Regions from separate parts of the Homo sapiens genome. Here region 2 is linked to region 1. The links come from fine-mapping of genetic effects on gene expression. A gene starts in region 1. The other region holds a variant in brackets. All regions are shown on one strand. Distances are between the middles of the regions. Region 1 holds the start of CEP19 (centrosomal protein 19). Region 2 overlaps PIGX (phosphatidylinositol glycan anchor biosynthesis class X).

Region 1 (4,394 bases):
CAAAAAGATGGAGGCAGGTGTGGTGGCTCAGGCCTGTAATCCCAACACTTTGGGAGGCCAAGGAGAGGAGATACCTTGAGGCCAGGAGTTTGAGACCAGCCTGGGCAACACAGCGAGACCATGCATGTCTCTACAAAAAATTTAAAAATTGGCCAGGCATGGCAGCATGCACCTGTAGTCCCAGCCACACCAAAGGCCAAGGTGGGAGAATCGCCTGAACCCAGGAGTTTGGGGCTGCAGTGAGTTGAGATGGTGCCACTGCACAACAGCCTCTCCAAAGCATGATACGCCTATTCTTAAAAAAAAAAAAAAAAAAAAAAAAAACTACTTTAAAAAATTACTGTGCTCTACCTCTAATCTGATGCAATGAGCTCACACCATTTCTCCTTCTTTTCCTTCTCTTTTCTTGCTTTTTTTTTTTTTTTAACGAATACTATTCCCAATTCACCTAACTAAAATTTGATGTTAGTAAACTACAACCTACGGGGCACATATAAACTCCACACACTGAAGCAATGGCTGTACTCGTCAAAGATGTATGCAGTTGGTACTCAAATAATGTAGTTTTTTTTTTACTAGACTCTTTTTAAAATTTAACTTTAATTTTTGCTAAAGTAATGTTTGTATTTGGAATATAAAATAATTCTATGAGGCTTATAACAACAAACTATCGTCCTTGGCCCTACTCCTCTTCATAGGGAGCCAGACTGAATTTTAAAAGGCATATCTTCCAAAATTTCTCTCTCCATTTCTTAAGAAACATGCTTATACTACCATTTTCAGTTTTTTTTTTTCTTTTGAAACAGAGTCTCCCTCTGTCGCCTAGGCTGCAGTGCAGTGGCGTGATCTCCCCTCGCTGCAACCTCCGCCTCCTGGGTTCAAGCGATTCTCGTGCCTCAGCCTCCCGAGTAGCTGGAATTACAGGTGCCTACCACCATGCCCAGCTAATCTTTGTATTTTCAGTAGAGACGGGGTTTCGCCATCTTGGCCAGGCTGGTCTCGAACTCCTGACCTCAGGTGATTCGCCCAAAGTGCTGGGGCTATAGGCGTGAGCCACCTGCCCGGCTATTTTCAGTTTTGGATAGTATGTTTTGACATACACTCTGTTTCCTCTTTGAGACACCCGCTCTAGAGCCCTCTATTCCACTCCAAGCCGCCTGGATGCTCTCTTGGCCTGCTTACAGATTCCACTCTGTTTAGGAAGAAGGACGGCACGTTTATCCAATTATTCTTCCTGGACACGAATACTCCTCTCCCCAGAGATCAGTAACTGCCCACAATCTTGTTAGGAAGCCCCACAGCACCTAAGGGTACGAATGTCCCCAAAGAGTAGACGATTCTCTCCCTACTCACGTCTCCACTAGTGCAAGGCTGGCTTTCTTACCCTTAGAGGAATACAGAAATGACATCGTCTGCAGGCCAACGTCTAAACAACCAGGAGTGGGTTTTTCCACCCAACCGCAGTGCACGCAAAGCCCCTAAGCCGACTGTGAGACCGGGCGGAGCCTGGCGCTGCAGGAAGAGGCGACAGCCACAGCCCTACTGACGAGCCCGAGGGGTGAACTCCCCGGCGGGAGGCCCGAACCCTCAAACACCGGGAAGCGGAGGTGGGGGCCGGCTGGGGGACCGGTCCACCGGCTCCCACCTCGGCGTACAGGGATTCCAGGTCCCGGCGAGCGCTGGCCTAGCGGTTTCCACAGCGACAGGCCGGGCGCGCGTCCCCGCGCGTGCGCAGCTCCTCGCCCGCCCCCGGGTGGGCGGAGCAAGGAACAGCTGGGCGGGGACGACCGCCCCACGCCGCGCGGGAACCCTTGGGGGCCGGGGCTGCAGGCAGCTGGGAACCGCGGGCGCTAGGCGCGCGCACCCAGCACTCGGTCCCAGCCGATAAATCTGGGGCAGCGCGCGGTAGGAGCTGCGGGCGGCCAGGCCCCTTCCTGCGTCCGCACCTGGCCCCGCGCGCCCCTCTCGGGCGTCCGGCTTCCGGCGTCCTGGCGGCTCGGGTGGCGGCGGTTCGGGCGGCCGCCTGGCTGCTCCTCGGGGCGGCGACCGGGCTCACGCGCGGGCCCGCCGCGGCCTTCACCGCCGCGCGCTCTGACGCCGGTAAGGGGGGCGGGGCTTGGGGGGCCAGAGCGTGGGAGCGGTCCCGGCTCCCGGGCCTCTCGGCGGGTTGCGGGGATGTGGGGACCCGGCGCGGGACCTAGATCAGTAGGGCGAGCCGGAGGAGGTCAGACACTAGAGCCGTGTGCCCTCCTTCCCTCCCGTGCGCTTTGCTCTGCGGCGGATCCCGGGTCTCCGGGAGAGTCGGGCTCGGGCCCTGCGGTTCCCAGGCTGGACTGGCCGCCCTGTTACTAAAGTTCTGAGAAGGAAAGTCAGCCGTCAAGCGTCTTGGGATGCTCTTGAGCTGCACGAAGCTTCTGATCACCAAGGGGCCAGGCAAGGCCTTAGCGCCCTGTGAGGCCTGAGAATCCCCAAACTGAATGTAGGACTCCGTGGCAAACTGCTAGTTGTTCGTGCAAGTAGTAGTTGGCAAACTGCTTGTACTACTGAGACGGGCAAGTGCGGGAATAATTACAATAAAGGGTAAGGTTTGATGGGAGGAAAGCACAAACCCTACAAGTTTCTCCATCTGTAAAATGAGGATGTTTCTGTCATCCTTGGTATCATTTAGATCCGTTTAGTATCTGTCAATCAGTGCAGTTCTGCTTGTGTGTTTACATATTGGGTTTTCAAGTTTATCTAAACAAAGGATTATGAGGCCAAGAAGATTTTTTTTTTGAGATGGAGTCTCACTCTGTTGCCAGGCTGGAGTGCAATGGCGCGATCTCGGCTCACTGCAACCTCCGCCTTTCCCAAGTTCAAGCAATTCTTCTGCTTCAGCCTCCCAAGTAGCTGGGATTATTACAGGTGCCCGCCACCATGCCCAGCTAATTTTTTGTATTTTTAGTAGAGACGGGGTTTCGCCGTATTGGTCAAGCTGGTCTTGAACTCCTGACCTCAGGTGGTCCACCCTCCTCAGCCTCCCAAAGTGCCAGGATTACAGGTGTGAACTACCATGCTCGGCCAGAAGAATTTTTAAACAGTTGGATTTGGTAATCTGTAGAGGCTTCCAACGTTAGCATTTTATAATTGAAAAGGGGTCAAAATTAGCGGGGCGTGATGGCGTGCCCCTGTAGTCCCAGCTACTCAGGGGGCTAAGGCAGGAGAATCGCTTGAACTAGGGAGGCGGAGGTTGCAGTGAGCCGAGATCGCGCCATTGCACTCCAGCCTGGGTGACAGAGGGAGACTCTGTCTCAAAAAAAAAAAAAAAAAGGAAAAAGAAGTCAATTTCCAGAGCCAGTTCACCACTACCAAAGTAATAGTTAAGAGGAAAAATGTTGAAGGTAAATTCACATTCAACAAATTCGTTTTAAAAATGGTACTTTTGCCTTTAAAATCATGACATTCTAGTATTTGCTGTACTATTTGTAAATTAGCCTTTCTCCGGTCCCAATGATCAACTGCTGTCTGGTGTACATACCAGTAGAATTTAAGCCTGTTCATAATTTTTCTTCTAATTTAATTTATAGTTGGATAGCAGTCCTCACTTCCCACCCTACCCCCATTAAAATTAAACAGGATGAAGAAAGATCTGGATTTGTGCTGGGCACAGTGGCTCACACCTGAAATTCTAACACATTGGGAGGCTGAGGTGGAAGGATTGCTTGAGGCCAAGAGTTCAAGACCAGCCTGGAAAACATAGCAAGACCCTGTCTCTGCAAAAAAATTTAAAAGTAGCCAGGTGTGGTGGCGTGGGCCTATAATCCTAGCTACTTGGGAGGCCGATGTGGGAGGATTGCTTGAGCTCAGAAGTTCAAGGCTGCAGTGAGCTGTGATCATGCCACTGCATTCCAGCTTGTGTGACAGAGTAAGGCCCTGTCTCTTTTTTTTTTTTTTTTTTTGAGACGGAGTCTTGCTCTCTTGCCAGGCTAGTGCAGTGGCGCAATCTCGGCTTATTGCAACCTTCACCTCCCAGGTTCAAGCGATTCTCCTGCCTCAGCCTCCCAAGTAGCGGGAACTACAGGTGCACACCACGACGCCCGGCTAATTTTTTGTATTTTAGTAAAGACGGGGTTTCACCATGTTGGCCAGGTTGGTCTTAAACTGTTGACCTTGTGATCTGCCTGCCTCCCCCTCCCAAAGTGCTGGGATTACAGGCATGAGTCACTGCACCCAGGCTATTTGTTCTTTTTTTTAAGAGGCAGAGCCTTGCTCGGCTGGGCGCTGTGGCCCATGCCTGTAATCCCAGCATTTTGGAAGGCCAGGGTGGGCAGATCACCAGGTCAGGAGATCGAGACCAGCCTGGCCAACGTGGTGAAACTCCATCTCTACTAAAAATACAAGAATTAGCCGGGCGT
Region 2 (4,394 bases), 19 kb after region 1:
GGGAGGCGGAGGTTTCAGTGAGCTGAGATCGCGCCACTGCAGTCCAGCCTGGGAGACAGAGCAAGACTGTCTCAAAAAAAAAAAAAAAAGTTAGTAGCACTGTTACTAAAAACCGACAGATGGGAAGTTTTTAATACTACATTTGTTACCGTCATACCTTTCATGACGAGAAAATTAAAAATGTTCAATTATATTACCTTTGTTCATCCAACCTTGTTTTCTGTTTCTATTAAAGGTACCTCTTAGCATAAATAAAGTTTGAAAAAGTTCCTCTCCTGAGAGAACTGGATTCTGATATTCTGTCTTTTTATCTGAATGCTCTTTTATGGGTGTGTTTCATATGGAAATTTATCGAGTTTTGCACTTACGATATGTTCACTTTTCTGAGTGATGCTTCAAAAATAAGTTTACATTAAATTTTTAAGAGCAGCCCCAAATTTGAGTACAATGAGATTCATTAAGAAGTCATGTTTGGCCAGGCGTAGTGGCTCACGCCTGTAATCCCAACACTTTGGGAAACTGAGGTGGGTGGATCACGAGGTCAGGAGTTCAAGACCATCCTGGCCAAGATGGTGAAACCCGATCTCTACTAAAAATACAAAAATTAGCTGGGTGCAATGGCAGGCACCTGTAATCCCAGCTACTCTGGAGGCTGAGGCAGGAGAATCGCTTGAACCCAGGAGGTGGAGGTTGCAGTGAGCCGAGATTGCACCACAGCACTCCAGCCTGGGTGACAGAGTGAGACTCTGTCTCAAAAAAAAAAAAAAAAAAAAAAAAGAAGTCATGTTCAACTTTTGCAATACTTTTGTGATTTTCTAATTTCTTAGGCATTCACATAAAAAAGGATGCTAAAATAACAGAATGTGATAGATGGGTCCAGATCATATACATAATGTATTAAAATGTTTGACAACTTCTGTCTATTGAGGTTTAATACAAGCCTAGCTTTCAGTCCAAATACAGGTTTTCTGACATCATTTTCTACCACTTTTCTCAGAGTTCCCGATTTTGAAATGCTGGGCTCACTCAGAAGTGGCAGCCCCTTGTGCTTTGGAGAATGAGGATATCTGCCAATGGAACAAGATGAAGTATAAATCAGTAAGCTAATGTTTTATGTTGTTTTTTAGATCATGTGCCTCATTTAAAGCTCTTTCTGTAATGTTCCTGCCACATTTAAGAGATTAGCATTTTTTTTTTTTTTTAGGCGGAGTCTCGCTCTGTCACCCAGGCTGGAGTGCAGTGGCACAATCTCGGCTCACTGCAGCCTCCGCCTACCAGGTTCAAGTGATTCTCCTGCCTCAGCCTCCCAAGTAGCTGGGATTCTAGGTGCCCGCCACCACACCCAGCTAATTTTTGTAGTTTTGGTAGAGGCAGGGTTTCACCCTGTTGGCCAGGCTGGTCTCAAACTCCTGACTTTAGGTGATCCGCCTATCTTGGCCTCCCAGAGTGCTGGGATTACAGGCATGAGCCACCGTGCCCAGCTGGGATTAGCATTTTCTAATATAGAAAGCTGTTTTTTCTTACAGCAAAGGGTTACTACAAAGCACTGCTGTTTTTTGTTGGGGAACTTTCATTGAACATACAGTTGGGAAGATGGATGACTCTGCAATCTTATGCAGTGTAGAGTTGTTTTTGAGTAGGTTGCCATTGCCATATGGTACCTGAAAATTTTTCTCAAACTCTAAAATACATCTGGAGACCTGCATTTGATTGATTATGTCAATGAAGAGTATGCTTAGTGTTTATGATTTATTGATTTAGCAAATTAGTGTGTATTGCTACAAGATAAGTAGTGACCCTTTTAAAACATTTTGAATTCAGTTGTCCTTATTTATTTATTTATTTATTTTGAGACAGAGTCTCGCTCTGTTGCCCAGGCTGGAGTGCAGTGGTGCAATCTTGGCTCACTGCAACCTCCGCCTCCCTGTTCAATCAGTTCTCCTGTCTCAGCCTCCCGAGTAGCTGGGACTATAGGCGCCTGCCACCATGCCCGGCTAATTTTTGTATTTTTAGTAGAGACGGGGTTTCACCTTGTTGGTCAGGCTGGTCTCAAACTCCTGACTTCAGGTGATCCACCCCCGTCAGCCTCCCAAAGTGCTGGGATTACAGGCGTGAGCCACCACACCTGACTTCAGTTGCCTTTAAAATTCTGTAACTTGCCATAAGAGGTCATAATAATTTAACACTTTAAATATAGCTTTTAACTATATGTATATATTATTTATATATATATATATATATATATATATATATATATATATATTTTATTTTATTTTATTTTTTTTTTTATTTTATTTTTTTTTTTGAGACGGAGTCTCGCTCTGTTGCCCAGGCTGGAGTGCAGTGGCACGATCTCGGCTCACCACAACCTCCGCCTCCCGGGTTCAAGTCATTCTCCTGCCTCAGCCTCCTGAGTAGCTGGGACTATAGGCACGTGCCACCATGCCTGGATAATTTTTGTATTTTTAGTAGAGACAGGGTTTCACTGTGTTGGCCAGGCTGGTCTCAAACTCCTGACCTCATGATCCGCCT[G/A]CCTCAGCCTCCCAAAGTGCTGGGATTACAGGCATGAGCCACTGCACCCGGCCAACTTTATATATATTTCATCTTCATATATACCAGAAAAATAGGTGGCCATTACTAAGGTGGTATTCCATCCCAAGGATTGTTGAAGATGTCATTTTTTTGAATGACGGTTTTCAGATAGCACTTTGTTGCAGATTGGGTTGGTTACTTGTATTTTTTGGGGTGTGAAATCATAATTCAGGTATTTACAAAAAGAAAAAGTATTCCCAAGTTACGTACATTTTAATGTTTTTTAAAACTTATTTTTAAAGTATAAACTTTCCCAGTGTTTTTCATTGAACTTTATCTTCAAAACCAAATAGAAAATAGAAACTGAGTTGAATGTAGGAGCTTTTCCATTGCTAGTCATAGTAAAGGCCACATCCAGCTGTACAATATGGGAATAACAAGGCTTTAAAAGCTATCTGGGGAGAGAAAGGCAAATGGGAATGAAAGAATAATTTAGTTTTTTGTTGTTTTAATGTTTTTCCTCTAAGTCTTCAATTTAGAGAGAATTCTGTATTCTAATTTGAAACATGGTAAGAGGAAGTAAATGTTTATATTGATTACAGAGGTGACACTGGGATATAGCTTTTCTTAAAATAATATACTTTATGTAAAAAGCAGAAAAATCAGAACTAATGAGATTTAACAAATTATTGTGGGAATTGAGTCTGATTCTGTAACATTAAATGAAATGTTAGATTCAAAAGTCATTCAAACCAATAATATTACATGTAGTGTAGCACTGGCTGAAATATATTTAAAAGAAAAAGGAAATAAAAATATCCAATTAAAAATCAAAGAAATAGTGGTCTCACCTTATGACATTTATTTTATTTTACTATTTTTATTTATTTATTTATTTATTTGAGACAGAGTCTTCCTCTGTCTCCCAGGCTGGAGTACAGTGGCACGATCTCAGCTCACTGCAAACCTCCGCCTCCCGGGTTCAAGTGATTGTTCTGTCTTAGCCTCCCTAGTAGCTGGGACTACAGGCACCTGCCACCACACCTGGCTAATTTTTGTATTTTTAGTAGAGATGGTTTAGTAGAGATGTTGGCCAGGCTGGTTTTGAACTCCTGACCTCAAGCGATCTGCCCGCCTTGGCCTCCCGAAGTGCTGGGATTACAGGCATGAGCTACCACACCGGGCCCATGACATGCATTTTCAATGTCTAACTTCTCTCTCTCTCTCCATAGGTATATAAGAATGTGATTCTACAAGTTCCAGTGGGACTGACTGTACATACCTCTCTAGTATGTTCTGTGACTCTGCTCATTACAATCCTGTGCTCTACATTGATCCTTGTAGCAGTTTTCAAATATGGCCATTTTTCCCTATAAGTTTTATGTAGTTAAATGCTTCCTAGAAACCTAAATAAGATCTATTAATTTCTGACGAGAGGTGTTCTTCTAGAATTAATTACTTTTATCTTTTGTCTTCATTTGTGGCCAAAATTATGTTTACTAGAGGAAATTTGGGATCATTCTCAGCTAATTCCAAAATGTAGTGCTCTATTGCATGGATCCTTGGTAATCCTCAAGCATCAGATGCCATAAGGGGAAACTTAATTCTGCTAAATTAATGTTTATTTTGTGAGAAGTGACTTTATCTTCATTTGGGGTAGAAAAATTATTTCTTTATGTAGTAGAGACAAATTATTCTCATTTTGCAAGTACTTTCAATTTAAGCTACAAATTGAGAAAACCGTTATAAATAAGAATAAAATAGGCCAGGCACAGTGGCTCACACCTGTAATCCCAGCACTTTGGGAGGCCGAGGTGGGCGGATCACCAGAGGTCAAGAGTTTGAGACCAGCTTGGTGAAAC

Evidence for each region. PIP is the estimated chance that this variant, and not a neighbour inherited with it, causes the effect.
Region 2: its variant is the best candidate, but not a certain one, in a credible set for the expression of CEP19 in whole blood (INTERVAL, PIP 0.54).

Annotation. Positions count from the first base shown.
Region 1 is chr3:196,710,545-196,714,938 of GRCh38, forward strand. It overlaps CEP19 (centrosomal protein 19), which reads right to left and starts at 1,706. Exons shown (of 3, transcript NM_032898.5): 1 at 1,385-1,706. PIGX (phosphatidylinositol glycan anchor biosynthesis class X) reads left to right here and starts at 1,833. Exons shown (of 6, transcript NM_017861.4): 1 at 1,833-2,100. The coding sequence starts at 1,989. RefSeq lists silencers at 1,456-1,768, 1,603-2,232.
Region 2 is chr3:196,729,995-196,734,388 of GRCh38, forward strand. PIGX (phosphatidylinositol glycan anchor biosynthesis class X) reads left to right here. Exons shown (of 6, transcript NM_017861.4): 5 at 998-1,098; 6 at 3,765-4,394. The coding sequence ends at 3,908. Among named protein-coding and RNA genes, the nearest start is that of PAK2, 7.7 kb to the right of the region's middle. The variant G/A (reference allele first, on the strand shown) is at 2,533.